2 linked regions of the Homo sapiens genome follow. The protein of the gene in region 1 interacts with the protein of each later gene in a biochemical or structural test. Each region holds a gene or a part of one and is shown on either strand. Other genes may lie near its edges.

Region 1 (2,327 bases):
GAAGAAAAGGGAAAGGGAAGAAGGAAAAGAAGAATGAAAAGTAAGGGAAGGAAGAAAGGGACTGTAATGATGATACTTGATGAGCATTACTTATTATATGAGGGAAGATAAATTTTATGAAATACAATTTAAATGTTCTTAGTGGTAATATAGTCACCCAAAAAATACTTTTCGTATTCTACACTGATGTGACAGTAATAATGGTTTTTCTTCAACTGACAGATGGGCTTTTTTAAACGGGTCCGGCCACCTCAAGAAGAACAAGAAAGGGAGCAGCTTCAACCTCATGAAAATGGTGAAGGAAACTCAGAAACTTAACTGCAGTTTTTAAGTTATGCTACATCTTGACCCACTAGAATTAGCAACTTTATTATAGATTTAAACTTTCTTCATGAGGAGTAAAAATCCAAGGCTTTACTGCTGATAGTGCTAATTGGCATTAACCACAAAATGAGAATTATATTTGTCAACCTTCTCCTTATAAATAAGTTCAGACATACATTTAATAACATAGGGTGACTTGTGTTTTTAGGTATTTAAATAATAAAATTTCAAGGGATAGTTTTTATTCAATGTATATAAGACAGGTAGTGCCTGATTTACTACTTTATATAAAATAGTACCTCCTTCAGTTACTGTTTCTGATTTAATGTACGGAACTTTATTTGTTGTTGTTGTTGTTGTTGTTGTTGTTGTTTTAAAGCAGTCCAAATTTGGACCTTAGCAATCATGTCTTTTGTATAGGTACTTAATGTTAATACATATTACACTACAGTTTACTTTTCAGAATACTAAAGACTTTATAACTGCATGAACTTGGATTTTTTTAATCACTCATATGGTAGAATTTTATAAACACATACATGATACCATCCAAATTCTTGCTTTTAATAACAAAGGTACAATATTTTGTTTTAGTATGAAAATCTGGTAGATCCTATTACACTTCTGTTTATATTAAATCCACAATATTTTATTACATTTTTAACTTGTATAAATTTTAGGTCAAATCCTTCAAGCCAACCTATACTAAAAATTAGTTCCATAATCACAAATGGCTCTTTTGTGTAATTGTTTAATTTCACCTGAATATCATAATGCTTAAAGCCATATGGAGTTGGAAATTATTTCCAAAGCATATTTATTCCATTGTTTTAGTCTGGCTATTTACAGTATAAAAAAAGCATTTTTATTAAAATACTGTGTAGTTCTTTGAGATAGTTGCTTATGCATATAGTAAGTATTACATTCTTAGAGTAGAGCAGAGTTTTTAGTTAGTATTAATTTATTTTCCTCCATTCATGTACTTTTCCTTATATTTCCAAAACTGTTACTGAGAATGGGTCAAGATCAGTGAGAAATCTTTACAGTTGACAGGAACCTGGACCCCTTACCCCAACTTTATGAGTAATGCTTGGAATAAAAACTCTTAAGGCAACTCACTGATTTACTTCTAGCAATAGCATGATGTTACAGGAATATTACCTCTGTTTAAGCAAGGTAATGTGTAAAATCAGTCTCGGCTGTCAGAATAACTTCTAAAAGGTATTTTTATAAGCAGTTCAAGTTACTGAAAACCTTTTAAACCTTTCTGAAGTTCGTTAGTATAAATTACTTTTCTAGGATTATTAATAAAAGCCACATAGGTGGCAAGTTGTAGTTTTATATGGCTCTGTAGAGTGGTGAACCTTCTAGAGGAATATATGATTTATTCACAGTTCCTCAAGGCCTGGGGATGATGATCAGTTATACCTATTTTTGTGCAATTACATCATGTTGTACATTAGAAATGGAGAGTTTAATAGCTCTTTAACTGCTGTCCTCATTAGGTAATGATAAATATTTCCCTTAAATAATTGACTATTTTGCTGTGTTTTAAAAATGATTGAAATTTATCTTGCCATATCTCATAATTTCATGCACAAGTTGACTGAGCTAATCTTGAGAATATATTCGTAAAATAGGAGCACATTTAGTTGAGGTATACAAGGTAGGACTCTAGACAAAACCTTCTATTTTAGCTTTAGTGAATTTCAAAAGTAATGGGTCTTGGAGTATAGATTTTTATTAGTAGCTTGAAAGAGCTTAATCATATGCAGTAAGTATTTTTATTACCAATAAATTTAAAATTTTTTAAGAAAAATATTTTTATCCTAGGGCCAAGTGTTGCCTGCCACCAATCAGTAAGTTAGTCTATAACAAATTTTACCCTAACAGTTTTACCACCTAGTAACAGTCATTTCTGAAAATATGTTGGATAGAAAGTCACTCTTTGGCAAAAGTGTTAGAATTTGCTTTTGTGCCATCTATTCCTTTTATGGCATCTA
Region 2 (3,654 bases), on another chromosome or scaffold:
TCCTCCCAAATAGGAATGGCCCAGGGCCGCTGCACAGGGCTGGACTGGGGGACATGTCTACCTTGCTCCTGGTTTGTCCCAGCCTCAGTACAAACCCTGGCCCAGGACCTACTGGACTGGAGGAAGGAGATCCCCTGCCTGCTCCCCCAATTAATAACCCCAAATGAGGCCTCTGAGTTGGATCCAGACAGCACAATGAGGAAGACCCCTCTCTCCCCACTGCCTGCTCCTCGCCCCTCCAGATGTGGTCAGGGGCTCCTTACCCGGCACACAAAGCACTCAGGATGCCACAGCGTGTTGAGGGCTGAGATATAGTTCTCCAGGATGGCCCGGGCGCAGCCGCCACACTTGGGTGCGAACATGTCGAAGTAGTCCTTGCGACAGTAGGCCTTGCCGTCCTTCTCGTGGAACCCTGGGGAGCGGGGGTTTTGGAGGCACAGTTCATTCCGGCTTCCAGAAGTGGAGCCACTCTGACTCCAACCTCAGCAGCGTCTCCCACCCCCACCTCCCCGGCCCTCCTAAGAGGCGGTGGGTCAGTCCGCCGGTCCAGCCCGTACCTTCGGGACCAAAGAAGGCTCCACACTGTGCACAGAAGAAGTGTTCAGGGTGCCACGTCCGGTCAAGGGCTGTCACCACTTTCTGTGAAAGCAAAATGTGGGATCAAGGCTGAGCTCTGGGCAGATCTCACAACTGAGACGCCCAGCAAGGCCGTCCTTCCACCCGCAGCTCATAGCCATAGACAGAGCAAAACACTCCCAAGATGGGGGTCTCTCCTAATTGTGCTGTGAATGCCTCTAAGAATTCAGAGTTACTCAGGATGGGACAAGCCAGACACATACCCTCTCCTCTACTCCTCACCCCAAGTAGAGGGCACAAGTTCTATGACTCCCATTTTATAAGTGAAGAAACATAGGCTCAGAGAGGCCAGGCATTTCCTAAGTTCACAGAGAGGGAGAGTGAGGCCGCTGGCATCCAACTCCATTTATCTCCTCAGGGCTCCTGAGTCCTGGGAGTCTCCACAGAAAGGAATCGAGATGGGAGGTGAAGGGAGGTGGGGCTGCCCGATGCACATCGGGACAGGCTGTGGTTCAGGTGTGGCTGTGAATCCGGCCCCACTGTTCCCTAGCCCTGTGAGCCTCGGGCATGTGACCTCTCTGAGCCTCCCACGGCACCCCCTGCATCCTCAGAGGGCTGCGGTGAAGCTGGAATGAGCGGAAGCGGGCGCGGTGCCGGATGAGGAACTCACATCCAGGATGGGGCCGTTGCAGTAGTAGCAGCGCGGGGAGAAGAGGTTGTGGTAGTCCTTTTCACAGTAGGGCTGTCCATCCCGCTCGAAGAAGTTCCGGGATCCGATCTCCTCCTGGCAGTGGGTGCAGACGAAGTGCTCGGGGTGCCACGTCTTCCCCATGGCGGTCACAACCTGAGGAGGAGATGGAATGCGGTCCAGGGCCAAGGCCAGCCCCGGAGCACCCCCACCCCTGCAGGAGTCCACTGGCCACACCCCTGCCCACTCCCCCTCATCACCTGCCCGGCGATGGGCTTCTTGCAGGCCCCGCAGACTCCTTTGGCGACTGTGGCGACCCCCAGCTTGTTCAGGTCAGACTGCAGGCTCCCCAGCATGCTGTCCAGCTGGCTCCCGGGCTTCGGGGGCCCCCCAGGGGGTGAGCTGCTCCCTGTCTTCCCCTGGGCCATGAACTGTGGACACGGAGGGGGCTGGTCAGGACTCCTGAGGCTCGGGGTACGGTGTCTGGCAGCACAGGGATGGGGGTACTTTTCTCCCTCCTGGACAGATGAGCTGATGGAGACAAGAAGTACAACCTCCTCCAGGGGCCAGGAGCCCTAAAGTGGGAGTGACGTCAGCAGGACTCCTGGTGGTCGGAGGGGCCCACCAGGGTCGGAAAGGCTGAGGGCACCCAGCAGGCATGGCCAAGCCCAGGGAGAGCACGACACGCAGGACACCCAGCCCAGCCTTGGCACTGACCCCTCCCTCGTCCTGCCCTCCGGGGCTGCTCCGCCCGCCGTCCCGAGGCCAGCCGGCCGCCCAGCACCGCTCCCCATCCGCTCTTTGCTCCAGGCCCTGGATCTTAGATAGGGGAAGAGATGAGGGTAAGAAATCTTTTTTAAAAATTAAGAAAGAATACAAGACCTTGTCACTGGACTAAAAGGGAATCTAGGATGAGATCTGAGGGTTTCTCCCCCACCGGCAGGACCAAAATTGGGGGAAAAAATCTGGAGAAAAAGAGCCCTGAGAGAGAGGCCTAGGGAGAAAGGAAGAAGGACAGGGAGGGGAGTCGACCAAAGGCAGAGGAAATGGCAAGGGGAGGTGGCCGGGCTCAGTGATGAGGCCTCACCGGGCGCTGGGCCTGGGGGCTGGAAGGGAGGAGACAGGTTTCTGGTCTCCCTTCTGGAGTGGCTTCTTTCCTCGATGGGAGCCCGGGGCAGTACTGAGGACCAGTCGAGGAAGGAGCAGACATGGGTGGACCCACAGAAAAGCAAGAGGGCAGCGGACCTTCTGAGTGGGGGAAGACCGGGGTCAAGGTTTACGGCAGGACTGTGGTTACTGTGCTGGGGCTTGTAGATGGAGGGATGGAGGGTATCTGTGTATGTGTGTGTGCACGTGTGTGTGTGCAGAGTGGGGGATGGCTCAGGCATTAGGACAGGGGACAGAAAGGGAGGGGCTCCTTTAAGGCCTGCCTGCATCGGGGGGAAGAGCGGGTCCTCATCAGTCTGGCAGCCCACGGACCTCATGGTGTGGGGTGCAGGAATGGGAAGGGCAGGGCCCTGCACCCCCTCATCATGGGGCTCTTCCCCTGCACTCTGGACCCCAGAAGAACCACAGGTATAAGCTGAGGGCCCCAGGGGGGAGGAGGCGAGCAGGCTGGGCAGGGGAGAAGAGCTGCTGGCCGCGGCGTCTGTGCGATGCTGGAGCAAAGGGACAGAAGGAGAAGCCAGGACAGAGATGGTTCTTCTCAGGGGAATGGGAGAGCCAGGAGGGAAGACAACCTGGGGAGAAGAAAGGAGGGAGAGCGATGAGGAAGAAATCGCCAGCTCAGCCCACAGGGGTGGCGGGACCTCCCCAGGCTCCCCCTGGGCCTTCCCACTCTGCACCAAGAGTGGGGCCAGTCTTCCAAAGTCACAGGAGGCAAGAAACCCCCACCCTCTCCCCAGATCTCCCCTCCGGCCAGCACTGGGGCCAGGGAAGAACCCGGACCCCAGGTGCTTGGCTCTGGCCCAGCCCCAGCCATGGGCATCTCCTCGCCACCTTCTCTACGAGCTGCCCCCCGGCCCGCTTCCCACGTGGCTGCACAGTGATGATGACGCCCTCGGTCAGCCAGTCCTGGGCAGAGGGCCCCGCCGCCTCCGCCGGCTCCTCTGCCTCAGGCTGGATGCCCAGCCGCCCCTGCAGCTCCGCGATGAGCTGTTCCTGGGATGGGGTCCTGCTCAAGGTGGCAGGGTCCAGCCGGCGGCGAGGGGAGGGCTCCCGGGACATGGGGTGTGCGTGGCCAGACTCCCAGCTCCTCCTGATCACAGATCGGATCTAGGGGGAGGGGGAGGGGAGGCTGTCACCGTCCCACTCCCAGCTTGCACAACGCTGCTCAGGCCACACTCAGATGCCTCAGGAGAGGGAGCACAAAAGAAAACCACCAAAGAACC

Evidence for each region. The genes of interacting proteins can lie anywhere in the genome.
Region 2: the proteins of ITGAV (region 1) and PXN form a complex in vitro, tested with the Homo sapiens proteins (one study listed by BioGRID).

Annotation. Positions count from the first base shown.
Region 1 is NC_000002.12:186,676,975-186,679,301, forward strand, and holds part of ITGAV (integrin alpha-V isoform 1 preproprotein), read left to right. Parts: intron 1-222; coding exon 223-318; 3' UTR 319-2,327.
Region 2 is NC_000012.12:120,213,579-120,217,232, forward strand, and holds part of PXN (paxillin), read right to left. Parts: intron 3,539-3,654; coding exon 3,263-3,538; intron 3,004-3,262; coding exon 2,695-3,003; coding exon of another isoform or gene 2,352-2,694; intron 2,084-2,351; coding exon 1,982-2,083; intron 1,840-1,981; coding exon of another isoform or gene 1,696-1,839; coding exon 1,525-1,695; intron 1,421-1,524; coding exon 1,247-1,420; intron 640-1,246; coding exon 558-639; intron 413-557; coding exon 264-412; intron 1-263. UniProt on the Homo sapiens protein: Cytoskeletal protein involved in actin-membrane attachment at sites of cell adhesion to the extracellular matrix (focal adhesion). Recruits other proteins such as TRIM15 to focal adhesion.